Homo sapiens: one gene and its partners. The protein of the gene in region 6 interacts with the protein of the main gene of each other region in a pairwise test. Each region holds a gene or a part of one and is shown on either strand. Other genes may lie near its edges. The genes, in order: RNF170, TMEM248, SHISAL1, CD69, TMEM237, SLC35B2 and GOLM1.

Region 1 (4,011 bases), on a different chromosome or scaffold from region 6:
TGGTGAAACCCCATCTCTACAAAAATACAAAAATTAGCTGGGCATGGTGGCAGGCGCCTGTAATCCTAGCTGCTTGGGAGACTGAGGCAGGAGAATCGTTTGAACCTGGGAGGCAGAGGTTGCAGTGAGCAGAGATCGCACCATTGCACTCCAGTCTGGGCGACAAGGCGAGACTGCATTTCAAAAAAAAAAAAAAAAAAATTGGCTCTGTCACTTAACAACTGGGCTACTCTTTGTAAAATGTATTATTATTATTTGTGAGACAGGATCTTGCTCTGCTGCCCATGCTGGAGTGCAGTAGCATGATCACAGTTCATTGCAGGCTCAAGCTCCTGGGCTCAAGCGATTCTCCTTCCTCAGCCTCCCCAGTAGCTGGGATTGCACATGTGAGCTATTGCGCCTGGCTAATTTCTTATTTTTTGTGGAGACAGGGTCTCCTTATGTTGCCCAGGCTGGCCTCCAACTCCTGGGCTCAAGCAATCCTCCTGCCTTAGCCTCCCAAAGTGCTGAGATTACAGGCGTGAGCCACAGCGCCTGGCCTCTTTGTAAAATTTCTTCACATCTCTAAAGCCTGTTTCCTCATAGGTGGGGTTAGATGAAGTACATTAATGTCCAATACATAGGCATGTAATAACTGATACTTTGCCCCTCAATCTTCTATGGCGTAAGAAGCCATAGAAGATTTTCCTGAATCTGCAGATTCAGGAAAAATAAGTGGTGGAAAGCACTCCTTCCTGATACTAAGTAAGTGTGAAATTATTCCCTTCTTACCCCAAGGTATGCTCTAGGATTCTCATTCTCCTTCATTAAACCTCAAGAGGTTGAGAGAGACAGAGACAGAGACAAACAGACTGAGACTAAGACCTTTAAGACTTTTAGTACAAACTCAGAGTCAAAAGAGGCAGGAGGACTAAGGCAGGGTCTTGGGCAGGTTCTTGAGAGAAGAACCTTCCTGCCCTGGCAAGGATGAATAATAAATGAAAGTCCCAAAAAGTGATGAACAAAGAGGGACTCAGTGAATCCCTCATGCTATGGATCTACTTGAACTACTGTCCAAACAAACACATTTCTGTTTATGGGGAAGCTGAATAGTTTCTTTAACCTCTGAACCCATAGCTGCTACATGGACACACTAAATAGAAAATAAATAAGTAAGTATATTATTTAGATGCTAAGTATACTTGGTTGACAAGTAGAGCAGGATATCAGAGGTAATCTACCCTACTCACAAAATACAAAATGTGACAAAGAGAAAATTGGGAATCCAGCCTTTGTACACATAGAGGTCTTGGTCTACACAGTCACTTTTCCCAAGTATAGCGTTGTTTGCTTACCACAAAAAAGATGTCCACAGTTGGTCTCCACCGGGAAGGAGGCTTGGTGCAGGCAGATGGGACAGTACATGTCAGTGTAGAACTGCTGTCGAGTGGCAGCAGGTGCATCCTAATAAGAACACAGGTGCACACATTGGAACACAACACATGTGGCCCTCAACAGTATCTCATGTTAAATTATATTTGAGAACAGAGTCAGCAGTGTGTAACCCTCATCAAACTGTAAACGTGCAATAGTTTAAGGTTATAATTTTAAGAATGTTATGAGGCTATATTGTTTTTATTTAAGCTGCATGGTTTCCACTTTCCTTCCTAAACACAATTTAAAGACAAAAACTTAGATTAACTCAAGAGTTCATCTTTTACTCTACTGGAATAAGTAAATTATTCTGAGTAACACAAGGCTGAGCTAGTGCATAAGCTAACAATAATAAATGTCGAGGTCAGGTGCAGTGACTCACGCCTGTAATCCCAGCACTTTGGGAGGCCGAGGCAAGTGGATCACTTGAGCCTAGGAGTTCCAGACGAGCCTGGGCAACATGGCAAAACCCCATCTCTACAAAAAATAGAAAAATTAGCCAGGAGTGGTGGTGGCATGCGCCTGTAGTCCCAGCTACTTGGGAGACTGAGGTGGGAGGTCACCTGAGCCTGGGAGGTTGAAGCTGGAGTGAGCCGTGACTGCACCACTGCACTCCAGCCTAGGTGACAGAGCGAGACCCTGTCTCAAAAAGAAAAAAATATCAAATGTCAAACTGTTTTCTAAGTCTTCACTTTTTTCATTTTCAACATCTTTTTCATTTTAAAAGTGTTGCACATATGCAAGAAACATCTAGATATCAAAGACCTCACTAGGATGGATCATGAGGGCAAGGGATTTATCTGTAGGACTCATTGTACCTCAGGACCTAGAAAAGTGTCTACATGGCCGGGCACGGTGGCTCACACCTGTAACCCCAGCACTTTGGGTGGCTGAGGTGGGTGGATCACTTGAGGTCAGGAGTTCGAGACCAGCCTGGTCAACATGGTGAAACCCTGTCTCTACCACAAAATACAAAAATTAGCTGGGCATGGTGGCGCACACCTGTAGTCCCAGCTACTCGGGAGGGTGAGGTGGGAGAATCACTTGAACTCAAGAGGTAAAGACTGCAATGAGCCGAGATCACACCGCTATACTCCTGCCTGGGCAACAGAGACCCTGTCTCAAAAAAAAAAAGTGTCTACATAACATATATTTTATGTTATTGTATTGTAAAACTTATTTATCAAAACTTGTTTTAATGGAACCCAGCACAGATAAAGTTGCTAGCATGAAAAATATCTAATTACAGAAAAAAGTATTAAGTTTACTAAATAGGAACTGTTCTTAAGTGAATCAGATTTTTGCCACTCAATATTCATAAACAAATTTAATAAATTTAAATAATAATAAATATAACTAAAATTTCATACTTCCAAAACAGTCCTAAATCACCAGAATATTCTGTGATCCAAGGCTACACCTTGATGTTATAGTCACTTATGTCAGTTCTAATGCTACAAAAAGTGTACAGCACTTTATGTTCCCTTCTCTACTTTTTTTTTTTTTTGAGACAGAGTCTCGCTCTGTCACCCAGGCTGGAGTGCAGTGGCACAATCTCAGCTCACTGAAACCTCTGCCTCCTGGGTTCAAGTGATTCTCCTGCTTCAGCCTCTGGAGTAGCTGGGATTACAAGCACCTGGCTAAAGTTGTGTTTTTAGTAGAGATGGGGTTTCGCCATGTTGCCCAGGGTGGTCTTGAGCTCCTGACCTCAGGTGATCTGCCCGCCTCAGCCTCCCAAAGTGCTGGGATTACAGGCGTGAGCCACTGCACCCAGCCTTCTCCTTATTAATTTTTAAAGAAATTGACAAAAAACAATTAACGGTGCTGTCCAACAGAACTTTCTGCAATAATTGAAATCTTTATCAGTGCTATCCAATACAGTAGCCAGGAGCCACATGTGGCCATTGTGTACTTGAAATGTGGCCAGTGTGACTAAAAGACTTAATTTCAGATTGTGTTTAATTTTAACTCACTTGAATAGCCACAGGTGGCTGGTAGCTGCCATACTGGACAGCACAGAACAGACTACATCGCCAGCCTTATTTTCACTCTGAGAGCTGTGTGCTGGGCCTCAGGAAGAGGTGAGGCAGTTGAGTGGACACTGCTGCAAGGAGACCTGGAAGATTCTCCTCAATCTGGGGCCCCTCCATAGCTGAACCCAGTCATGAAATTGCTAGTGTGAGTGTTAGCAAATCTTAGCAGTCTCATATGTTAATGAGAATAATAGTAGTTGCCTTACTTATGTCTAAAGATTAAATACAATTGTTGTTTGGGAAATCACTTTGTAAATTATAAAACACTATCTCAACATGAATTATGGGTAACAATTGTTATGGAACACAGTACTACTAATAGGCTTAAACTATTCTGTCTTTTTTAGACGGAGTCTCACTCTCTGTCACCAGGCTGGAGTGCAGTGGCGCAATCTCAGCTCACTACAACCTCCGCCTCCCGGGTTCAAGTGATTCTCCTGCCTCAGCCTCCCAAGTAGCTGGGACAACAGGTGTGCGCCACCATGCCCGGCCAATTTTTGTATTTTTAGTAGAGATGGGGTTTTACCATATTGGCCAGGATGGTCTTGATCTCTTGACCTCGTGA
Region 2 (4,011 bases), on a different chromosome or scaffold from region 6:
CATTTTCTAGTTCTTCCCAGCAGCTTAGCACAGTGCCAGACTAACAATGGCCATTAAAAAATATGTAAACTAATAGCAATAGAAGATGTGTAGTAAGTAATGAAAACTCCAACAGGACAAGCCTGAATTAAAATTACATGTTTGTAAATATTAGACAGGCCTTAACAGTTTTCTCACAGTTTCTCATTCCTACAGGCTTTTGAGAAACTACTTCTAGCCAGGTACTTTACCATGTAACGATGGAACAGAAATGGTTCATGTAGTTCAAACTCAACAAAAAAAAGACACGCGCAAGACTACAATCTAGTACAATATAGTCAGTAAAAACATACACGGTGCATCCTCTTTTTGTAACAGTGGTTGCCTAAGGAGCCTGAGTGGAGAGTGGCTACTGCATACCTGAAAGTCCAATCTGATGCCCTAAGATGGTTGAGTACAGATGGGTGACGTTGCGGGAATACCCTCCGAAGGGTTTCAGTGGGTCCAGGGTTAGGGTGATTGAGACTGAGATATTCACCGGGCCCGAGTCCTCCAGGGCCTGGGGGGACTGGGTGGAAGCTCGGGCCTGCCCGCTGGTCATTGTACTTTCCGGAGTTGTGGTGTCGTTTGTGAGATGCTTGAGGGTTTCATTCTCTGATACACACAAGTCCAAATCATTGAACCGTAGCAGAAAAGTATTCCAATCCTTTGGGAAAGTGAAAGAAAGAGAAATGGGTGTTAAGCAGCGCCTGTCTCCCACTGCGGGAATACAGGTAAGACCCCAGTGTGGCACCGCAGCACATCAGCAAACTACAATTCAGAGCTGATCATTTAAGATCATGACAACTCGGCCACCACCCTCTTCACAGGCAGCATGATGTGGCTTTCCTAATCACTTTTATATTCACAACCTAAAATATGAACTCTTCACTGGCACAAGATACTCAATAAACTGTGAAATCAAATCAATTTATTCAAGAAAATCTTTTTAAAAAATCCAGCATATTACACTTAGAGAAAATGATCTAGCCTCAGAACCAAACTTGAAAAGAACGCTTGAAGAAAAGCATTAATCCAAACTCATTTTGCAACTACAATTCTTTTCTTTAAATAAAGTCACCTTAAAATAATGTCCCAAAAGGTCAATTCCATACACCTTGCTCTCTTTCTCTAGAACACAAAACAGCAGTGAATACTAATACTCATTTGGGACACTGCCCCCCTTCTTATGGACTTTTGATGACACCTTAGAGCAGCAACGATTTCAAAAAGGAAGGGGCCAGGTACGGTGGCTCGCACCTGTAATCCCAGCACTTTGGGAGGCCAAGGTGGGTGGATCATTTGAGGTCAGGAGTTCGAGACCAGCCTGAGCAACATGGTGAAACCACGTCTCTACTAAAAATACAATAATTAGCCGGGTGTGGTGGTGTGTGCCTGTAATCCCACCTACTTGGGAGGCTGAGGCAGGAGAATCGCTTGAACCTGGGAGGTGGAGGTTGCAGTGAGAGGAGATCGTGCCACTGCACTCCACCCTGGGCGACACAGTGAGACTCTGTCTCAAAAAAAAAAAAAAAAAAAGCCATCTGAGGCCAGGTACGGTAGTTCACGCCTGTAATCCCAGCACTTTGGGAGGCCAAGCAGGGTGGATCACTTGAGGCCAGGAGTTCGAGACCAGCATGGATAACATGGTGAAACCTTGTCTCTACTAAAAATACAAAAATTAGCTGGACATGGTGGCGCATGCCTGTAATCCCAGCTACTTGGAAGGCTGAGGCACGAAAATCGTTTGAAGGGGGGCAGAGGCTGAAGTGAGCCAAGATCGCGCCACTGAAGTCCAGCCTCAGCCTGGGTGTCAGAGTGACACTCCACCTCAAAAAAAAAAAAAAGTCATCTGAGCAACCCCTACCCAGCCCAGTAAGTCTACCCTTACAGCATCAGTTTAACTGTATGTGACATTTAGTAAGACTGCAACTGGATCTATCAAATTACATTTTCCCTAACACCTACAAACTCAACTGACCATTCTAGTACATTAGGGTTGAAAATGAACATTCTAGTCTCAGTCCTTCATAATCCTAGACATGAAGAAACTGAGGCCCAGGGCAAATTAGGGACTCTCCAATTCTAGTTCAAGGTAAAATCAGCATTAAGTTCTGATTCACAGCCCCAAATGTTTCCCATACACCACTGCCTTTCCTACAACCTAGGATCCTCATTTGAAAACAAAAATCACGAAACTAATCATAACCAAAGTTCCGCAGCATCTCAACAATGCGTTCCTACAGAGCTGGAGTCCACGTTGAACAGCTGGCTAAAGCCAATGCCAGGCCTAATTTGGATTATTAAGGGCTAATTATCCAGGCTTCAGTGCAACCACTGGCCTTGGCCAAGTGCTCAACATGGACTCAAGCTCTGCGGGAAAGAAATGGCAGGAGGCTGTGCAGCTTTAGTTTTGAGTAGAATATTCATTTTCAGCCCTGATGTGGGGGCAGCCTGTTTTCACAACCTTTAAAGATTGAGGCAGGGTCAGAAAAGAGAGAGAATTAAGCCAGCCAGTATGTCTCTTAGTAATAAACTCTTTGAAAGGGTTACATGGTAGAAATAGCTAAAACTCGTTACTTGAACTGTGCTAGAAAGAGCTCACATGTGTAGGCGGTTCCTTTTGCCAAGATCACTTAAGATCTAGAATGCCCTAGAGCATGAGAGAAAGCTACGATCTCAATTACATGGAACACAACTCTCCTCTCCATTGCAAGGCACACTCAATGCGGCAACCACGCACTCCCAGCCCCACTCCCACCCCCACCTCCACCCACCAACAAACCCAAGAAGAAGGAAATAGAATAAGAGAAGGCACCCAAGGAATCTACTAAAAGACAGGAATTAGGCTGGATGCGGTGGCTCACACCGGTAATCCCAGCACTTGGGGAGGCCGAGATGGGTGGATCACCTGAGGTCAGGAGTTCGAGACCAGCCTGGCCAACGTGGCGAAACCCCGTCTCTACTAAAAAGACAAAAATTAGCCAGACGTGGTGGCAGGCACCTGTAATCCCAGCTACTCAGGAGGCTGAGGCAGGAGAATCGCTTGAGCCCGGGAGGTGGAAGTTGCAGTGAGCTGAGAGTACGCCACTGCACTCCAGACTAGGTGACGGAGCGAGACTCCGTCTCAAAAAACAAAAAACAAATATATTTGGAAATTAGGTCCTGTTTTTGAATTTCTTTAGGATTCCTTCTTATCTCATGAAAAAAACCATTAGTATAGCTGATAAAACTCCATGATGATATGTGGTTTTAAAATACCAAATGTTCAGTTTTCTAAAACAGCAATGAACCCATTTGAGATGGAATATTACAGAGGTGAGGTCTCCAGCTTTTTGACACAGATCATTTTACAAATGTACTCTCCAAAGTGCATGTTTCACTGCTAAAATAGTCTAACTGAAACTGGTAGCATATTTAAATCGAACAATACCCATCTAGGTATTTCCTAACAAAGTGAGTCCTGGGGAGATGGAAAACAGAAAATTCTGAATAAATACTGATTTTTCTCACTAGGAGAGAAAGGCCAAAACCCAAGAAAGCTATATGGCAAGCCACAGGGTGTTGCCCCACTGCACAAGGACCAGCCAGCCCGGGAGAAGTCAGAGCATACTATACCTCTGCCATTTCTGGGGATTTAATCTCCTTGATTTTGAAGAAGTAGCCCAGGGTCAGGAAAGCTATGGCCATGGCGCTTACGCTGATCATGAAGACCACCAGGGGAGGCCGACTGCTGATGTACACCTTCAGGTTCTCCAGGGGGTTGATGCTGAACATTATTCTGATCAGCTCCACCTGAAAGAAATGAATCAGAAGCTTCAAGGACTGACTTGCCAACAGGAAAGCTATGATTCTTTTGTTTCCTTTTGAGGTGTTGGGGGGTGAGCTGGGTGGGATGGGCACTCATTACTGAATTTGAGAAATGTCGGATCATAACTTCATTCAAAAGACTAGAAGGAAGAAACACTAAATGTTAACTGCCATTACCTCAAA
Region 3 (4,011 bases), on a different chromosome or scaffold from region 6:
CACTGGCCTGGTGGTTTTCAGCCCCTGCCCCTTTGCTGGGGGCAGCTCAGAGGGAGGCTATGAGGATGTCTGGGGGTGCTTGGCAGGGCTCCCCGGACAGCAAAGCCAAAGCCACGCCCAGGCCAGGGGTCTGGGGGCTACCCAGCTGCTCTCCCCACCCCAGATGCTTCCCATGCTTTGGCTCACCTGGTCCTCACCATCCCTGGAGGACGGACCCACTCAGCCCATTTTACAAATGAGGAAGGTGAGACACTCAGAAGGAAAGCGGCCTGCCCGAGGTCACCCCTTCAGGGGAGGGGCCAGCCAGTGAATCAGGGCCATCCAGATGCAGGAGTTACGTGGAGCTGTGCACACAGGGGTGCGTTCATGGTTGAGGCTTCGGGGCCCGAAATGCGGCTCTCTCCTTTGCGTCCCTGCTCTGCTGGGGCCTCCTAACAGAGTGTCCCTCGGCCTGGAGTCACGCCATGCCCCAGAGCAGAAGCCCACGGATGCTGCCCTTTACTGCCCTTTACAGCCTCTAGTGCTCGTAGGGCCCCTAGTGCACACACAGCCTCTTTCTCTAGGTGGGGGCTGCGCCTTGCTGTTTACAAAACGCTCCTGGGAGCCCCCAGCCCGCCTTGGAGACCATGAGTCTTTCATCAGTGAGGGGAGGAGGCCAGAGAGGTCACGATGGCCCAGGCAGCCTCATGCCAGGACTCCCACCCGGTTGTCCCGGCTCCCAGCCCAGGGCTCTGTTGGCTCCGGGAAGGCAGCCGGGGAGGCTTCATCGTTACCAAATGGCCAAAGCCCATGGCGCTGACCGCCCAGTGGTGGCCGGGTGAGCTGGGTGCTGGTAATGGGCAGGACCCTTCCACATCCCCCAACCTCGCCGGGCCTGCCCTCCCCGGCCCCCCATCTCTGCATATCAGGCTCCTCCCAGTCCCTTGAGGCCCAGCTCAAAGGCTGCCTCCCCATGCTGCCCTACCGCTCTGTCCCTTCCCTCCCTGAGTCCTGTGGTAGCCTCACGGGCTGGTCCCAGGGCCTAAGCTAGACTTTCTGCCCAGCAGCGTGAGTGTGCCTGGTTCCTCCCCAGCTGCCCACGCACTGAGCGTGAGCAGGGCCTCCTCACTGACCTGGGCAGTGACCCAGACAGTGACCGGAACTGGCTAGCTGCCTCTGCCCCTTGCCGCTAGGCCAGTGGGCCCCAAACCCAAGCCCATCAGCATCCCCTGGAGGGCTTGCCAGGACAGACGGCGGGGCCTACCCCGGAGCTTCTGATTCAGAAGCCCAGTGGCCTGAGAATCTGCATTTCTGACAAGCCCTCCGGGGATGCCCTCGAGGCCGATCAGGGGCCACACTTTGGGAACTGCTGCTCTGAGCCACAGTTTTCTCCCCTGTACGATGGGAATAAATGAGATGGGGTGAGACAGCTGTCTACTTGGGGCTCTCTAATAACCTCTACATCCCCAGAGGGGGTATTCTTCTTTCTTAAGGTTGAGGAAGAGAAGGGGGCCTGGAGAGCTCCCCTGGTTCCCCAAAAGCTGAGACCTTTCTCTCGCAGTGGTCATGCCCATCCCCACAGAAGAGGGTGCTGTCTGTGGGGGAAGGGGTGTGGAATTTCATGCCCCCCGCCGGAGGCAGCCTCAGCACCCCAGCACATGAAGGCCGCCTGCCCATCTTCCAGCCCAGCCCAGCCCAGCTGGGACTCCCCTGCAGCAGCCCCGGGTGGGTAGGTGGGGAGCTGTGTGGGCTGCAGTCTAATAACCTCTCAGCAGACACAGAGCTTTCAACGAGCTGGAGGAACTCCTGCAAAGCCACTGCCTTTGTGGTTAAAGGAATGTATTCAGCCAGCGAAGCCCCTTTTCAGTGATACAAATTAGATACAGCGATCTCTTTTATGAAGATACTAATTAAGCCTGAGAGAGCGGGCTTTAGGTTTTTTCCATTGTTATATTTGTTCAGACTTTCAGTCCTGTTTATCACCATCGGCACGACTCGTAAATACCATCCTGGGTTTGCAGTAGCATTGGTGGCTGAATAGGGGCCTCCGCCCCTGAGCAGAGTGGTGGGAGGGTTCCAGGCCAAGGCAGAGCTACCACCGTGAGGTGGGGGTGACTGAGGCAGGCCCTTGGGGACCTTGGGGCCTAGGGTACTAGTTTAGTAGAAACCAAGGAACGAAGGGTCTGCTGTTTTTGACCCAAGAGGTACCCAAGAGGTCCTTGCACCTATGCCAGCCACCACCCGGGCCAGCCTGGGCTGAGCAGCAGGTCCACCACTGCCCACCTGGGAACAAAGAGCTAGTGATACAAGACTGGAGAGGGCCCCAAACTTTGAATCCAGGCCTGAGTTCCATTCCTGTCCCTCCAACACTTATCAGCTCGGGCAAGTCACCTTAGGTCTCTGAGCCTCAGTTTCTCCATCTGTAAAGTGGGATCTCAGACTTGCTTGGCTGTGTGAGTTAAATGAGATGGGTCTGTGAAGCATACAGTAGGTGCTCAGTTAAGGCTGATTTCCTAATTGAGTGACTGCTGCATGTCAAGCATGTTCACCGAAGCAGGAGAGCCAGCCCTGCCCTCCAGGACCAGCCAGTCTGGGTGACACAGAGAATGTAACCAGGGCTGGGAGGCTCGGGGTAATGGGAACCCAGAGGTGAGGCTCACAGTGGACCACAAAGGCATCCAGGGGAGGGAAGAAGCAGGCAGGACCTGAGAAGAGGCCGGCCAGTCCCCCTGCCTCTTGGCACCCGTGGACTGGTGAGGGACCCCTCTGAGCCTGGTGACTCTGTCTTCCAGTCTTGTCTGCACATTTCCGGGTCTGTGAACCATACACAGACCACAAAGGCCGCTACCACTTTGGCTTCCACTGCCCCCGGCTCTCGGACAACAAGACCTTCATCCTCTGTTGTCACCATAACAACACGGTCTTCAAATACTGCTGCAACGAGACGGAGTTCCAGGCGGTGATGCAGGCGAACCTCACGGCCAGCTCCGAGGGTTACATGCACAAGTGAGTGCCACTCTGGGGGTGCAACCCCACTGCCTCGGGCCCCAGGCAAGGGGCCTGCCTCCCAAAATCGCGTCCCCTAGGGAGGCGGTTGGGTAACCGCTATAAGGTTGGGTGGGCCTGGAAGGAGTCTGGGAGAGTCTTTGGATGACCAGGGTTTTCGGCCCATTGTGCCTTCTAAGTTTCAGCTTTCTCATCTGAGAAATGGACACAGAGGCCAGGCGCGGTAGCTCACACCTGTAATCCTAGCACTTTGGGAGAATGAGGTGGGTGGATCACCTGAGGTCAGGAGTTCGAGACCAGCCTAGCCAACATGGTGAAACCCCATCTCTACTAAAAATACAAAAATTAGCAGGATGTGGTGGCAGGTGCCTGTAATCCCAGCTACTCAGGAGGCTGAGGCAGGAGAATCACTTGAACCCAGGAGGCAGAGGGTTGCAGTGAGCAGAGATGGCGCCATTGCACTCCAGCCTGGGTGACAAGAGTGAAACTCCGTCTCAAAAAAGAAAAGAAAAGAGGGAGGGAGGGAGGGAGGGACACAGAATACTCACTTTGCAGGGTTACCATAGAAGCTAAGTGAGGTTAAGGATGTGGAAAGCTTTCAGGCGTAGAAGGCGCCTGGGCCTGTAATCCACCGGGTTCCTTCATTCATTCTTCATTCATTTAACAAATACTGATTGACACCATTGACCCAGAGATTAATCCCATGCAGTTCTTTTCCTTAAGGTGATTAAAATACATTGGGATCAGGGCCTGATGGAGGGGACCACAGGTGTGGAGAAAGAGAGAGTTTGCTGTTAGAAAAGCAATGGGAACACGCTAAGTAGAGTCATGGAGTTTCAAAACAGCATGCGTTTCTCTATTATGAGTGAAGCTGGCCGTCTTTTCACATGCCTGAGAGACATTTGTATTTCTTTTACCGTGAGCTAGCTGTTTATGTCTTCTGTCATTTTTCTATTGAAGTTTTTGTTTTTTTCTTATTTACTTATGGGTGCTTTTTATATATGAAGGAAATATGATGAGTTGCAA
Region 4 (3,469 bases), on a different chromosome or scaffold from region 6:
GGCATGACAGCTTATCTGACCATGTACTCATTCTATATAGGATCAGCATATTTGGATTTCTGGTCTTTGAAGCTAAGCAATCAAATCAAATTTAAAAGATTAAATTAAATCTCATTTTGACCTCAGGCTGATCATATGGTTCTCTGGGATGACATTTTCCTACATCTGAAATAGGTACAATGTTTGTTTGTTTGTTTGTTTTCTCCACTTAGAAACGGAAGGAAAGCACTGATTAGCCATATGAATTAAAATAGTAGTATTTTATCTTTTTTTTATTCTTACCATGTCCTTTTCAGAATCAATGACAGCAAGAGTAGCACCATGTTCAGAACAAGCATTTTGGGCTGAAGTCCAGCTCCTCTTCACAGTAGAAATAAAGTAGCATTTCCTCTGGTAGCCAACCCAGTCCTCAGAGCATGAAGAAACATGGCTGTCTGATGGCATTGAGAATGTGTATTGGCCTGGACAATTGTATTGGCCCACTGTGAACAGAAAAATGCTTTGTTTTAGTAACAAAAGAAACCAAATACCCACAGCATGCAAAACTAGCCTTAGGATGCTATGTTGTGCTAGGTGGTGATAAAGTAAAGGATAAAAGCTAAAAAGTAGAATTCTGAAAAGGGTATGAAGAAAGAAAGTTCTCAGGACCATATCTGATCTTCCATTGTGCCTAATCATCATTGGATGGAGATATGAGGATGAGGGGATGTACTTTTGGTCATAATGTCAGAAAATGACAGAAATATAGAACAATTCTGAAAATTTGGACTAGATATTTCTTTGGACTAGAAAGGATAAAGTGCATTATACATTTCAAATAAGGTTTTGAATCTGAATGCAGAGGCGGAAGAATTTGAAGATGCAGTATTTATAGCACTAGGCTGGAAAGATGGAGAGAGTAACTAACTTTTAGGGAACCAATTCAAAATACAGAAAGACATATGACTCAGAATATCTCAAAACAATGGTAAACATTCCCATTTGTAAAAGATACAAATATATCTTGGTACAGCTGGAGGTATTGAATACCAAATCACTACTGACTCTCTGGGAACTTTTAAATATAATCTTAATTATTCAGAACTACCATTCTGTGTCCTTTGAGATAAAACACAAAAGACTGGCCACTTCCTGATTAATCTATGGCTTTAGATACGATTTTTTTCCATAATCAATGAATGTGAAGTTCACATTTTTTTCTAGCTAAATAGGTATTTATTCAGAATTCAAATCAGCTCCCTTCATTCTAGATGTAAACATCTTTTCAAATGCAATTTTATTCTACAGTAATATATAAATCATAGATACTTTTAATACTTATAAAAGTATTACATTAATTATTCAAGGATTGTGGAATTATGTTTAGTATTGATTAGGAAATTGGCCATATATGGTACATGGGATGATTCTGAATTAGCTAGTTTCTGATTAACTAGACTAAACTAATATTGATTTCAGCTGGGCATGAATGCTTACAGCTAGGAGGCTTTGAAAGAATTGATGAAGTGTAGACCCACCTGATAAGGCAATGAGAGCTATGATTAAAATGGTGATGAAGACCACATTCATTACAGCACACAGGACAGGAACTTGGAAGGACCCTTCATGACGTGTTGAGAAATGGGGACTGGTGGCATCATCTGGAAGGGAGAAAGTTGATGATGAGTTCAGGCAGACTATAGAAGTACTATAGGAATATGCAACATTCTTTTGAGGCATTTAAACTTAATATTTCCTATCTCATTATATGAAATTTCCCCGTCTCTTTATAGAAATTTCTAAGTTAATTTACCCCCAATTTTGAGTGAATTTGAATAGTTTATTGTTGGCTTGAAATGAAACAATTCAAGCATAATGATGAGATTATAAAGTGTCTCCCCAAAATATTTACCTGACACATATGATTTATACACTTAGTAACTATGAAAATTCTAAGTATATAATCAGTTTGTTTTAATGATGATAAGAACGTTTATTAAATATGCACATGCCCCAGAAGACACATAAAAAAATTCTAGGGCATGGTGGCTCACACCTGTAATCTCAGCATTTTGGGAGGCCGAGGTGAGTGGATTGATCACCTGAGCTCAGGAGTTCAAGACCATCATGAGCAACATGGTGAAACCCTGTCTCCACCAAAAATACAAAAAATTAGCTGGTCATGGTGGCACGCACTTGTGTTCCCAGCTACTTGGGAGTCTGAAGTGGGAGGATCGCTTTAGCCTGGGAGGCAGAGGTTGCTGTGAGCGGAGATTGCACCACTGCACTCTAACCTGAGTGACAGAGTGAGACCTTGTCTAAAAAAATAAATAAATAAATAAATAAAAAATTCTAGCATAATTCCTTAATCTCCTTGTAGTTACTGTTTGAGAGAAATGATGTGAATGGGATAAATATGGATAATATCATAAAGTAAAATATTGAATTGCTATATAAATATCTGACATTAAAATGACTGAACAAAATTTTAAACGTGACAGTATTTTTTGGTGAAGTTGCTGCAGATGTGGAGCAACTGGAATTTTCAGATATTATTGGTGGGAGAGTAAATTGGAAAAACACTTTGGAAACTGTTTCTTATAAAATTAAATATATGCCTTTTCTATGGCCCAACAAACCTACTCCTATGTATATCCTCAAGAAAAATGAAAATATGTTCTCAAAATGCCTTGTGCAAGAATGCTCCTAGCAGCTTTATTCTTAAGAGCCAAATTCCAGAAATAATCCAAATATCCACCAACAGGAAAATAAGTGAACAAATTATGGTATATCCATACAAGGGAATTCCGCTCAGCAATTCAAAATAAGACAACTGATACATGCAACAAAATGAAGGAATCTCCAAAAAAAATGTTGAGTGAAAAAAAATCCAGCCACAGAAGATTGTATACTACATATTTGCATTTACATGACTTTAAATAATAGTTGGTCTAAGCTCTGGTGTCAAAAATCAGAACAGTAGTTGCCTTTGTGTGTGTAGGAAAGGTAATTTAACTGGAATGGGACACAGGGCAAACTGTCTAGGGTGATGGAAAGATTCAAATGTTGCTGGTCTTGTGGTTATACCACTGTCATAAGTCGTTAAACTGTATACCTACGAGCTGTGCATTCATCGTATGTGAACTAAACCTCAATTTAAAATGATATGTGAATGAACAGTAAAAATTTGAATTTTTCAAAAGATGTTAAAATAATAGAGGAAATGTAACAGTATTATAGACCAAATATTCAGCGAAAGTTATTTCATTTACCCTCTGTACAATGGTGAAACAAAGTAAAAGCCTTTTTTTTTCCCAACAAGCAGTGTTTCTATGGAAGGATTTAGAATAAAAATATGATGTTAACGATAACTGATAGTTACAAAAAACTCTAAGAGGATGTCTGTTCTACACTCTAAGTAAATAACTGAGGAAGGAGAAAAGAGAATTTTGCGACTTAGATTTTGGATTTTAATTTTGCAGGATGAGCT
Region 5 (4,011 bases), on a different chromosome or scaffold from region 6:
TGTGGGATATGGATAGGGGGAAAGAAATGAAAGCAGAGAGGTTTTTATCATGTCATCAAAATCACAAGTGCTATCACAACTTAACCTTGGTTTCTTCACATACCAAGAGGTAGCCTTGTCTTTTTCTGTCTTCTTTGAACAGGAGCCTCTGGGTGCTCTTTGAGTTCTTTAGTTGATGGCTCATTGCCCTCAGAGGGCCTTCGACCAGCAGTCTGAGCAAGGCCTTCCAAAGAAGCACTTGCTATAGAAAAACAGAGTAGAAAAAAATGAGATTACTTGAGCAAAGATCACTGAATCTTAAAAAGATGGAGGAAAAGGTAACTAGAATGTTTCCTATAGAATAACCCCATCTCTTTCAGAACTAATTATCCCCCAAATCTTTCCTTCCTCCTCACCTGTAACTTTGGGCTTTAAGTTAGGAAAAGAAATAAATGAAGGAATAAGAAAGGCTGAGGAAGAAAAAACGAGGGGGCTAAAAAGAAGAGCAAAAGACAGGAGGAGGAGAAATTGCTTCAGAACATTTAGAACTTTGAAAAAGGTGGAAAACATAATAAAAACTGATACCATAGAGAATTCTCTTACTTGCCTCTTGCCTTAAGAATTTTCATCAGCCTCTATATAGTAAAGTCCTTCATTAATAAGTTAAAGAATAATAAAGTCATCATGGATAATTGGAGTTAGCAGGTAATTTATAAGTCTCTTCATTTGGTCATTCACTTCAACTTCTTCCCTCATGAAATCTTTTAAAAGAATTTTAACACATACCTGACTGCATTCCCTTCCTTGCTTGTCTTCTTCACAAAAGAAATAGAAATTGCACTGGGTGCAGTGGCTCATGCCTGGAATCCCAGCACTTTGGGAGGCCAAAGCAGGCGGATCACATGAGGTCAAGAGTTCGAAACCAGCCTGACCAACATGGCAAAACTCCCTCTCTACTAAAAATACAAAAATTAGCCGGGTGTAGTGGCATGCGCCTGTAGTCCCAGCTACTCAAGGAGGCCGAGGCAGGAGAATCGCTTGAACCCAGGAGGTGGAGGTTGCAGGGAGCCAAGATCACACCATTGCACTCCAGCCTGGGCAACAGAGCAAGACTCCGTCTCAAAAAAAAAAAAAAAAAATAGAAATGTATCAATAAACAAATGAAAATGTTTAACCTCAGTAGTACATAGAGAAATGTAAACTAAAATAAGCTACTTTTCCCCCACTAAATTAACAAAAAAATTTTAAAGATTGATTATTGTCCAATGTTGTTAAGGATTTAGAGAATGAGACACTCTCAGACTCTACAGGTAGCAAGATAATAACTAAAGCTTCCTTAAGGTAATTTAGCAGAGTCAGTCATACTAATAATGCACACATCCTGCACCTAGCAATTCCACTGCTAGCAATCCATCCTACAGAAGTACTTCTTCCCTACCACCCACTATTTTATGCAGAACTGCAACATTGTTGGAGTGAAAAATTGGAAATAACCTAAATAAATAACAGAGCAGTGATTATGGTACATTCTTATCATGTAATACAATGAAGTCACTGTTTAAGAATACATAGAACTCTATGTATTAAGAAACAAAGATAGTATGTATGATTCCTTTTATGTTTTTGTTGTTGTTTGTTTGTTTTAAAAAAGGAGCAGCAACCACAGAAACCTTTTAGGAGTGTGAGAGGTCTCAAGTAAAGAGTGAAGTTAAAGGATCAGGTAAAGATAATCTTGAGGTTTCAGGCCTGAGGGCTGGGAAAATGGTAGGTTCCATTAACAGAAAATCATGAGACGTAAAAAAATTATTTATTCTTAAAGGCAACGATGGATTCTAGATGTGCTGAGTTTAGAGTTACGGATGCAACTTCCAGGATTATCAGTGGATGACTAAGACAAAAACGAGTTCTGCTCATGACTGAAGCTTTACTATTTAAATGATGATGTGGCCATGCCTTCAGACTCATGCTGTAATGTAGAGATATTCTGATTGAAGTGAGATTTAAGAACTCTGTGTTTCTAAATTCAGTATCTTGTTCAAGGGTCTGGAATCAATCATAGCTTAAAACCATGTATGTTGTCTGGGGATAAAAGACCTTAAAGAGTCCAGGAATATCATGGAAATAGGAGCTTAGATGGCACCACCTTCTATTCCATGAATGCGTCCAGATACTCCTCAGGCTGCCCACTGCCCTGTACCTCACCACCACCAGGAATTCCACTGCTTCAAACTGGCCTTAATTCTATCCTCAATGAAGTGGAGATTCGGGGCTGCTGGGGCCTTAATTCTCCCTTATCTGTGATGTTTACTACGCCTGAGGTCCTGGGAAAACTTGTGATCCCACACAACAAAGAATAACGTCTTACCTGGTGTGTTTTTTGTTCTGGGCTTCTTTTTCTTAGGACGACTAAGTGGAATATCATCTATAAAGCAAGAAAAAACGTCAACAGAAAAGGGTGCCTAAAATTCAATGCAGAGAACAGTCAGAAGAGAACTTTTAAACAGGGAAGAATTCTCCCTCTCTTCCCTGGGCCTGGCAAACGTTTATAGATTAGGGGAAGAAGGCAAGAAATTGAGAAGATCAGAGAGAGCCCACAGTGTGGTACCAGTAGCACACTGCATGTCAGTAATGTTAGAAACCATGACACAGAAAGTGGGTTCAACAAATATTCATCTGATCCCCTATATTTCCCAGCCTCCTTGCACATAGGTGTAGTCTATGACTGGTTCTGGCCTATAGGCTGTGAGCAGAAGTGATCTGTGTCATTTCAGAGCCAAACGTTGAAAGAGCCAGTGAGTAATCTTCCAGCTTTCTCTTCCCTTGTTGTGGTGACTGAGGAAGCCTCATGTTAAGATGGTGGGACCACAGCACAGAAGTAGCCTAGATTGCAGACCAGGCGCAGTGGCTCACACCTGTAATCCCAACACTTTGGGAGGCCAAGACAGGCAGATCACTTGAGCTCAGGAGTTCGACACCAGCCTGGCCAACATGGCAAAACCCTGTCTCTACTGAAAATACAAAAAGTAGCTGGGCATGGTGGCACACGCCTGTAATCCCAACTACTCAGGAGGCTGAGGCAGGAGAATGACTTGAACCCAGGAGGCAGAGATTGCAGTGAGCCGAGATCACACCACTGCACTCCAGCCTGGGCAACAGAGTGAGACTCTGTCTCAAAACAAAAGAAAAAAAAAAGTAGCCTAGATTGCTATATCAATAGTAAAAAGGTAGTGAAAGGTAATGGTCCCCCATTTTTGCCATAGCAGACTTTGTATTAATTAGAAATAACCCTGTGTGACACTAAGTCACTGAGATTTGGGGGTTTTAGTATAGTATAACCTTGTCTACCCTGACTAAATGAGACAAAGGAAGGTGCAGTCCTCATTATAGAGCTACAAATTAGCCAACAGTTATGTGCTGGGTGACCCCATTCAGGGATGAAGTGCTTTTATAATGGAAAGGTCATCTAGTGCTATGTATCAATGACAATTTTTAAATGGTAGTCATGGGAGATTATTTCACAAAAACATATTGTAGAATTACAAATTACACCATTCAGACTCAGTTTTAAGAGAAACAAACCAAGGAATCAAACTAATTTTTGAACACCAAATATTATATTTACATTAAACTAACTCACCTTGACTAACACGTCATATAACACCAAACAAATTTAATCAGCAGGACAAAGACAAAAAAGAAACAATTAATTAGAAACCTGTTAATATTCACAGTGAAAATTGACTTAAATCATTACAAATTTAAAATAAAATTAGCTTTCACATAATAGCTAGTTTACAAACTAGTTTACTGTTTATAATTAAGTGGTTTAATAACACTGCTAATAAAATAATGTCAATATTTTCTGAACCTACATATACATATTCCCTACTGTCTATTAATAAAATGGATTAAGCAGATTAAGAACTCTTACTTGTGACTGATTAAAATCAGCTTAAACTCTGAGGAAACTATTCTCACAAAAGACCAGAATTCTGATTTAAAAAAAAAAAGACACCAAAACAGTTAGAAAGG
Region 6 (4,660 bases):
AAGAAATGCAGGTATTTGCAGAGGGGAGTGAGTCTGGAAGGTGGCAGAGCACAGCTAGGGCAAGACTTAAGGGAACTTGTGGGAAGAGTAACTGGAACCTACCTATGCTCTCTTGACCCCAAACTCCCCAAAACCCCTCACTGAGGACTGTCTACCCCCGGGGCTCAGAATAAACTGCTTACTGGAAGATGGGTGACTTAAGGCAAAAGGGAAGGCTGCCTCCTGGGCTCCCCAATCCCCTGCTGCAGAGCTGGTCTGTGATACTGAGAAAACACCTGCATTTTGCCCTTTCAGCCAGCTCCCTCAGAGGTTACAGCAGAAGGGGATGGTGGGAGGGTCCTATTTCACTTCACCCCTCAGGCCCTTTCCACCCTCAAACCTTCTGCACAGGAGACTCAACAGGCACAGCCTTCTTTCCCCGTTGCTTTAGACGGCCCCGCGCGTAGACTCTGAGCAGGAGGGCAGCAAAGACCACAGCCACCCCCAGCCCTCCCACCACAGTGACAGTGTGGCCATAGAGAAGGCAGGAAAGAAGGATGGCAAAGGCCTGGCGGAGGGTCATGATGATGGTGAAGACGGCAGCCCCAAACTGCCCAATGGTGTAAAAGATGAAGAGCTGGCCACATGCGGAGCAGATGGAGAGTAGCAGGGCATGGGCAGCAAACTCACTGTGTCGCCCCATGAAGCGGGTTCCCTCCAGTAGGGCCCCCTGTTCTAGCAGTGAGCCCACTGTGAAGAGGCAGGAGAAGAAATTGACCCCAAACATCATCTGCACCGATGACATCTTATAGGCAAACAGGGCATCCTGCCAGTTTGAGGTGAAGCTGTCAAAAGCAATATAACCTGCCAGTAAGATGAGGCCTGAGAGTGTGGTGGCTGGGGAGCTGCGGGGCTCTGGTCCGCTGGATAGCAGAAACATGCTGACCCCAATGGAGATGAGGGTGGCTGTCAGGTACTCCCAGTGTTCGTAGCTGCGCCGAGACACAAGCTTTCCCATCAGCATGACAGGGATCACCTTAGAGGCCTTGGCCAGCACCTGGGTGGGGAAGCTGACGAACTTAAGAGCTTCGTATTGGCACCAGCTGCTAAGCACATTGGACAGGCTGGCAAAGGAGTACCGGTACATGGGTGCCCCATGCCGGGGCTGCTTGCAGAGAACACAGGAGAGGCCAGCCACAATCAGTGCCAGCACTCGGTTCATTAGCACCAGGAACTGCGAGTCCGTAAAGCGCTCACCCGGTGATGTGGCTGTGGCCCCATAGCTGCGGGTCATCACTCTTTCCTGCAGCACACCCCAAGTCAGATAAGACACCTGTTGGGGAAGGTAGAGACAAAGGAGACAATAAGCAAGATAATGAAAAGGTAGACAAAAATTGACCTCTCTCTCTTCAGGATTATGCCTAAGTGATTCAAAGGAAAATATACACTTTTTGGTTCCTCTGTAGAAGTTTCTTCTCCCCTCCTAAGTCTGGATTCACCTTGTAGGGAATCAACTGTGTGTGAAAAACCTATTCAGGGAGGCAAGAACTCTCAGAATTGGGTATCTGTAGTTCAACATGATATTCAAGGTGGAACTAGTACCCACTGCAAAATGCCATGGGGTCAGCATGTTAGCACTCTCTCACATGCAGTACTGGGGGAAGGCTGAATGGCTCCCCCACAATTTTATCAGTGGGTTTACAGTATGTGAGACACCAGTGCAGGAAGGAAGTATAATAACGGCACAGTAGAAATCACAGAGAATAGGGCAAGAGGAGTCCTCTCTTCTGCACTAGACATCTTGAAATAACAGCATGAACTTTCAGTACCAGTGCTGGAGAGGAGAAAAGGAAGAAACAAAAGGGCATTTCCCCCAAACACCTCAAAGATGGAGGTGCAGTGTGCCCCTGGGAGGAGGACACGAAACACACCAGCCAGCAAAGCTCTGGGACTGGTAAAATGGAAACCTTCACAGAATCCCTGCCCACCGGCATCCAACCCAGGAAGAGAGGCTGAGCCCACCTACCCACCTGGAGCCCTGTGGCACAGAAGAGCAGCTTCAGGGCCTGCCACATCGGGGTGGTCTCTGCCGCCTCTGTTCGGGGCGCCAGGGGAACCTCATCAGAGGCCTTGGGCTCATTGCCAAACACACAAGCTTTCACCAGGGGAAAGCAGAGGCCCCTACCTGAAGAAAGCACACAAAGTCAAGCCCCAAATCTTCTCCATAGCACTTCATCTTCCCCAGAGCAGCCAGCCTGCCCTGCTGTCCGGCCTACCGACCTCCCGCCCTCTCCAAGTCATATCCCGTTTGGACTGCTGGCCAAATACCCTCTTTCCCGACCTAGCTCACTTCCCCGCCCTTTCTTCACACACCGGTCTCCAGGTAGTTCTTCCGCCTGAAGTACTGCACCAGGAGGTAGCCAGGTACCATAAAGCTGGCATAGCCAGCAGCATTCACCACAAATCGGAAGAACCATAGCTGGGTCCATGACTCCGGAGGGGCTTCGGGAGTCTCCCCACCTGCCCCTAGGGAGGGGAACGCAGCCAGCACCACCACTGCCCACCATCTGTAAGGAAAGCGGACATAAGGATTAGGGCGCAGCTCCTCATCCCCTCCGCCCTCCAGAGGGGACCACACTGGAGTAGTGCCCGGAGTCTCCTCCCCGCCCCCTCCGCTGCAGCTCCGGCCCGGACAAAGAGCCTCTCTCTCTCTCTCTCTCTCGGGGAGGGGGTGCGCCGGCGCTGGCCAGGCAGAGCTTCCTCCCTCCCCGGGGGCGGATCCGCCCCTCTGGCCACACAGGTCTCCTCTGTTCCCTCCAACGCTAGCCGGCTGCTCAGGTCAGAGGAAGCGCCCCTTCCCCCACACTCCCCTCCACGATCCGGGACGTCAGGGTCCCCAGCCCCTCCGCCCGAAGCTCCCCAAGGAGCACAAAACCAAGCCGCAGCTCCCATCCCCGCTGGCTCCGGGCAGCGATATGCTGGCCGACGGCCGAGCAGCCGGGACCCCACCCGGCCCCCGTGCTGAGGCGCGGCAGTCACGTGGCCCGGGGGCTCGGTCACGTGAGCTCGCTGCTGCCCTAGCCCCCACCTGGCGTCCATGGTCCAGGCCGCGTGGGGTGGAGGGGGAACCGGGGAATGCGAGTCCCCGGGCCGCGCGCCCCCTGCGCTCCCGCCGCCGCCTCCAGGAGCGGCCAGCGAGCCAGCGGCCAGCGGAAGTGCCGCGCTCTTCCCGCCTCCCTCCCCGCGGCCCCCTCCGCCCCTGCCGCGACCACGCAGCGCCCCGGGCCGCCGCCGGACCACAGCGCCCCCGCGCGGCCCGGAGGCAGACGCGGCTTGGGTTCCGGGGACCTGGGCTGCCCCTGGGCGCGGGGAGCCCCAGCCCTGAAGAGGCGCCCGCCCGGCGTGTCCCCTGTGCTTCGTCATCGCCCTTCATAAGCGTCCCAGAGGTCATGGTGACCATTGCCATCTTGTGGACAGGACATTGAGGCTCTGCATCCCAAGCCGCTCCTCTGTGTTAGTTTCCCCGTTTTCTGACAGGATGAAGGTGTCTCCTTGCTTTGTTGGCTGGGTAGTAATTCTGTCCCACTTCCCATGATCTTCGAGGCTCTACATGGCCTCGCCCGCGTTCCTCGCCCACTCACTCGCCCGCTGTGAAGCCCCACTGGCTTGCTCTCAGTTCCTCTAATTCACAGGCTTTCCCCCTAATGCTCTGCCCCCATCCCTTTACTCATCCTTACATCCCAGTTGAGATGATACTCCTCAGGCGAGGGTTCCCGGACCACCCAAAGTATGACCCTCTACCGACTCCATCCTTTTCCTTCCCACTATTCTTTTCCCTTCATAGCACCCACTGCAACTTGGAAAGGCATCTTTATTTGGATGTTTATGCTTTTAACGGCTGTCTCTCTCACTGGATGAGACGCTCCAAGTGGTCAGAGACTGTGCTGGTTTATTGCCCCATGCTCTTCATGCCAGCATAGGGGTGACCTAGCAGGGCCCTCGAAGGTGAGGAACGGGGGGAAAAACGTGGAGTCAGCTCCCTCGTGCCCAGCCTCCCTGGGTTACCCTTATCCCCAGGCTCCTCCAGATGGCAACCCCCAGGGCAGTGGTGAGGGCTCCAGGGCGTGTGTCCTCTCATTCTTCCTCTTGTCCCTCCATCCCTCATCATTTCCACAGCAAGGACAAGGGTCTGTGCTGGACACAGAGAAAGGCCTGGAACTACTGGCCTCTGACCCCACCCAGCAAGGCCCTACCGTGCTCAGGGGACAATTTCCTTCTCTCTGCCTCTACCACAAAGTCACAGGGCAGGCCTGTCTAAAAAGCCCCAATGCACACAGACATGCATGCGCGCAAAACAGCTCTAGAAGGGAAAAACTTTTTTTAACGTCTCTGCCATTTTAGTGTCATGTTACTGAAACTTCCCTTCCCCAGTGGCTCAGTTCAGAGCCTTCTGTGTGAAGTCTTTAAACAACGGTGTTTCAGGGTCCTCAACAGCAATAAGATGGGACACCTCTCAGGGTTCTGCTTGCTCCTATTTCAGTCTCTTCTCACTCAGGAGAGTCCATGCTTCCTACTGGTTGGCAGTTTCAGGCTGACCCAACATGGGTAAAACAAGAGCACCTGCCATTTTCAAGAGAGGCAAACAGGCTTCACCCAGGATACCTGGGGCTTTGGGGGTCTT
Region 7 (4,011 bases), on a different chromosome or scaffold from region 6:
AATCTGACAATTATGTGTCTTCAGGTTGCTCTTCTCGAGGAGTATCTGTGGTGTTCTCTGTATTTCCTGAATTTGAATGTTGGCCTGTCTTGCTAGGTTGGGGAAGTTCTCCTGGATAATATCCTGAAGAGTGTTTCCAACTTGGTTCCATTCCCCCCCTCACTTTCAGGTACACCAATCAAACATAGGTTTGGTCTTTTCACATAGTTCCATATTTGTTGGAGGCTTTGTTCATTCCTTTTCATTCTTTTTTTCTCTAATCTTGTCTTCACGCTTTATTTCATTAAGTTGATCTTCGACCTCTGATATCCTTTCTTCCGCTTGACCGATTTGGCTATTGATACTTGCATATGCTTCACGAAGTTCTCGTGCTGTGTTTTTCAGCTCCATCAGGTCATTTATGTTCTTCTCTAAACTGGTTATTCTAGTTAGCAATTCCTCTAAACTTTTTTCAAGGTTCTTAGCTTCCTTGCATTGGGTTAGAACATGCTCCTTTAGCTCGGAGGAGTTTATTACCCACCTTCTGAAGCCTACTTCTGTCAGTTCATCAAACTCATTCTCTGTCCAGTTTTGTTCCCTTGCTGGCGAGGAGGTGTGATCCTTTGGAGGAGAAGAGGCATTCTGGTTTTTGGAATTTTCAGCCTTTTTGTGCAGGTTTTTCCTCATCTTTGTGGATGTATCTACCTTTGGTCTTTGATATTGGTGAACTTCAGATGGGGTTTCTGTGTGGATGTCCTTTTTGTTGATGCTATTCCTTTCTGTTAGTTTCCCTTCTCACTGTCAGGCCCCTCTGCTGCAGGTCTGCTGGAGTTTGCTGGAGGTCCACTCCAGACACTGCCTGGGTATCACCAGTGGAGGCATCAGAAAAGCAAAGATTGCTGCCTGTTCCTTCCTCTGGAAGCTTTGTCGCAGAGGGGCACCCACTAGATGCCAGCCGGAGCTCTCCTGTATGAGGTGAGCTGTCAACCCCTGCTAGGAGGTGTCTTCCAGTCAGGAGGCACAGGGGTCAGGGACCCACTTGAAGAGGCAGTCTGTCCCCTAGCAGACTTTGAGTGTTATGCTGGGAGATCTGCTGCTCTCTTCAGAGCTGGCAGGCAGGAACATTTAAGTCTGCTGAAGCTGTGCCCACAGCTACCCCTTCCCCCAGGTGCTCTGTCCCAGGGAGCTGGGAGTTTTATCTGTAAGACTGGGGCTGCTGCCTTTCTTTCAGAGATGCCCTGCTCAGAGAGGAGGAATCTAGAGAGGCAGTCTGGCCACAGTGGCTTTGCCGAGCTGCAGTGGGCTCTACCCAGTTCGAACTGGCAGCTTTCTTTACACTGTGAGAGGAAAACCACCTACTCCAGCCTCAGCAATGGCGGATGCCCCTCCCCTCTACCAAGCTCGAGCATCCCGGGGCAACTTCAGACTGCTGTGCTGGCAGCAAGAATTTCAAGCCAGTGTTTCTTAGCTTGCTGGGCTCCATTGGGGTGGAATCCAATGAGTTAGACCACTTGGCTCCCTGGCTTCAGCCTCCTTTCCAGGGGAGTGAACAGTTCTGTCTCGCTGGCGTTCCAAGTGCCACTGGGGTACCAAAAAAAAAAAAAAAAAAAAAAAAAAAACTCCTGCAGCTAGCTCAGTGTCTGCCCAAATGGCCGCCCAGTTTTGTGCTTGAAACCCAGGGCCCTGGTGGTGTAGGCACCTGAGGGTATCTCCTGGTCTGTGGGTTGCGAAGAGCATGGGAAAAGCGTAGTATCTGGGCCAGAGTGCACTGTCCCTCATGGCACAGTCCCTCATAGTTTCCCTTGGCTAGGGGAGGAGTTCCCCAACCCCTTGCACTTCCTAGATGAGGCGATGCCCCACCCTGCTTCTGCTCACCCTCTGTGGGCTGCATCCACCGTCTAACCAGTCCCAGTGAGATGAGCCAGGTACCTCAGTTGGAAATGCAGAAATCACCTGTCTTCTGTGTTGATCTCGCTGGGAGCTGCGGACCAGAGCTGTTGCTATTTGGCCATCTTACCAGCCACTCTGTTGTTGTTTTAAATAACCTAATCTTGTCAATCCTTTATTACTTCTCGATTGTTGTTATATTTAGAAGGGCATTTCCTATTCTAAGTTTATAAACAACTTACCCACATTTTTTTCCAATGTACAGTTTCATATTTACATTTAAATTGTTCATCCATTTAAAACTCCTTTTTGATGTAAGGAGTAAGGAAATACAAAGAATGCAGAAGTAAGGAAATACAAAGAATGCAGCTTTTTTTTTTCCTGTAGTGACAAGCCAGTTCTGCCAGGGCCCTCTACTGAATAATCTATTTTTACCTACTGCTTTGAACAACTATCTTTGTTATATACTAAATTTTCTAACAATATACTTTTTCTTAAAGAGATGGAATCTTGTCGCCCAGGCTGGAGTGCAGTGGTACAATCATGGCTCACTGCAGCCTTGAACTCCTGGACCTAAGCAATCCTCACACCTCAGTCTCCGAGTAGGCACATGCTGCCGCACATGGCTTGACAAAATACTTTTAGATGTGACCCTTGCAAGGCCTTTTGTTATTCTAGTAGAGGTAAGTCAGTGGGTGGGGTATATTATAAATTTGAAAGCAGAAAATAAACTCCATTCTCACTTCAAGGGAAGTGTACAGATAACCATTTAATATTCTCTTTTCTTTAAACAGCCAATAAAAAATTTATTGAGCAGCTACCATGAGTCAGGTGCTGTATTCACATCAGGCAGCTCAGGGTGGTATTAAGAGCACAGACTGGAATCCCATTGCCATATCTGAATCCTGGCTCCACCACTCAGGAACCCCACAGACTGGAGCCTCACAGCCATGTCTGACACTGGCTCCACCACTCAGGAACTCCAAGACTGGAACCCCACAACCATGTCTGACCCTTGCTCTACCACTCAGGGGACACAGGACCTGTCTGTGCATCACTGTCCTGCTCACAAGGTTTTTAAGAGGATTCAGTGAGTTGAGTGAGAAGCGCTTAGAGCTACATTTGGCACATAGTAATTGCTCAACAAATGTTGACAACTATTAGGGATGGAAAGATGAACAACAAATCATTTCTAGATTCAATCTTTTTTCCATTTTATGAGGAAACAGTGATGCATGTTTTCCTTCCATAACCATTCTACTTTATAGCAACCAGTCCTCCTCTTTCCTTCTCCTGACTCTGCCACCAACTAAAATAGCAGTACCTGCCATTACCTGGGGCTGACCTACAGTTGCCACTGAGGCCGTGGACATCCCAGACCAGGATCATATTATGAAAAAGGTTTGAGGAAGCCAAGCCTCAAACAGTCCTGGAAGTCATACAATCCTGGAAGCCCCTCACTGTCACCCAGTGCTTGGCTGGCCAGGAAGGTGAGCAGCTGTCTAGACAGCACTCTTAGGAGAGCCCTGGGCTCCCAATGGGAGCAGGGCTGCCCAGGTAAATAGTGACACAAGGAAAGGAAGTAACACAATGAGGCTTCAGGCCTGCAAGGTGCCTCCTCACAGGCTTCCAGGACTGTAGAAACCCTTGCTGCTGAAGGATAAGGGACACACACTGGCGAGAAATGATCAAGACTGATGAAGGCTGGTGGCAGGAACTCACAGGCAGAGTTTATGGTGGTCAAATACATCAGACACTCTCCCTTCTCCCACCTTAGAATTTATTTGGATTGCGGATGAGATGGAAGTGGGTGAGTGATATACTGCATCAAACAGAGGTATTAATTTAATATTCATTTTCATTTAAGCTTCAGAATATGTTTGTCTCATACTTGGTTATAAGCTTCCAACATACTGAAAATGATTAACTTAAATCAGCTAAACTCTGTGAGGCTCCAGGCTTTCCCAAAATTAAAACAAGTGGTGTGTTTTCACATTAAAAATCACTTGATAGGCTGGGTGTACACAGTGGCTCATGTGTATAATCCCAGCACTTTGGGAGGCCAAGGCAGACGATCACCTGAGGTCAGGAATTTGAGGCCAGCCTGGCCAACATATCAAAACCCTGTCTCTACTAAAAATACAA

Evidence for each region.
Region 1: the proteins of SLC35B2 (region 6) and RNF170 interact in binary tests that used the Homo sapiens proteins (3 or more experiments, as listed by UniProt).
Region 2: the proteins of SLC35B2 (region 6) and TMEM248 interact in binary tests that used the Homo sapiens proteins (3 or more experiments, as listed by UniProt).
Region 3: the proteins of SLC35B2 (region 6) and SHISAL1 interact in binary tests that used the Homo sapiens proteins (3 or more experiments, as listed by UniProt).
Region 4: the proteins of SLC35B2 (region 6) and CD69 interact in binary tests that used the Homo sapiens proteins (3 or more experiments, as listed by UniProt).
Region 5: the proteins of SLC35B2 (region 6) and TMEM237 interact in binary tests that used the Homo sapiens proteins (3 or more experiments, as listed by UniProt).
Region 7: the proteins of SLC35B2 (region 6) and GOLM1 interact in binary tests that used the Homo sapiens proteins (3 or more experiments, as listed by UniProt).

What each region holds. Positions count from the first base shown.
Region 1 is NC_000008.11:42,868,670-42,872,680, forward strand, and holds part of RNF170 (E3 ubiquitin-protein ligase RNF170), read right to left. Parts: intron 1,444-4,011; coding exon 1,335-1,443; intron 1-1,334. UniProt on the Homo sapiens protein: E3 ubiquitin-protein ligase that plays an essential role in stimulus-induced inositol 1,4,5-trisphosphate receptor type 1 (ITPR1) ubiquitination and degradation via the endoplasmic reticulum-associated degradation (ERAD) pathway.
Region 2 is NC_000007.14:66,941,650-66,945,660, reverse strand, and holds part of TMEM248 (transmembrane protein 248), read right to left. Parts: intron 3,814-4,011; coding exon of another isoform or gene 3,796-3,813; coding exon 3,637-3,795; intron 686-3,636; coding exon 400-685; intron 1-399.
Region 3 is NC_000022.11:44,295,646-44,299,656, reverse strand, and holds part of SHISAL1 (protein shisa-like-1 precursor), read left to right. Parts: intron 1-2,771; coding exon 2,772-2,985; intron 2,986-4,011.
Region 4 is NC_000012.12:9,754,780-9,758,248, forward strand, and holds part of CD69 (early activation antigen CD69), read right to left. Parts: intron 1,641-3,469; coding exon 1,518-1,640; intron 483-1,517; coding exon 283-482; intron 1-282. UniProt on the Homo sapiens protein: Transmembrane protein expressed mainly on T-cells resident in mucosa that plays an essential role in immune cell homeostasis.
Region 5 is NC_000002.12:201,636,645-201,640,655, forward strand, and holds part of TMEM237 (transmembrane protein 237), read right to left. Parts: intron 3,622-4,011; coding exon 3,617-3,621; intron 2,402-3,616; coding exon 2,345-2,401; intron 242-2,344; coding exon 104-241; intron 1-103. UniProt on the Homo sapiens protein: Component of the transition zone in primary cilia. Required for ciliogenesis.
Region 6 is NC_000006.12:44,254,333-44,258,992, forward strand, and holds the start of SLC35B2 (adenosine 3'-phospho 5'-phosphosulfate transporter 1), read right to left. Parts: upstream 3,197-4,660; 5' UTR 3,079-3,196; coding exon 3,068-3,078; intron 2,957-3,067; exon of another isoform or gene 2,850-2,956; intron 2,547-2,849; coding exon 2,353-2,546; intron 2,165-2,352; coding exon 2,010-2,164; exon of another isoform or gene 2,006-2,009; intron 1,313-2,005; coding exon 374-1,312; 3' UTR 1-373. UniProt on the Homo sapiens protein: Probably functions as a 3'-phosphoadenylyl sulfate:adenosine 3',5'-bisphosphate antiporter at the Golgi membranes.
Region 7 is NC_000009.12:86,089,217-86,093,227, forward strand, and holds part of GOLM1 (Golgi membrane protein 1), read right to left. Parts: intron 1-4,011.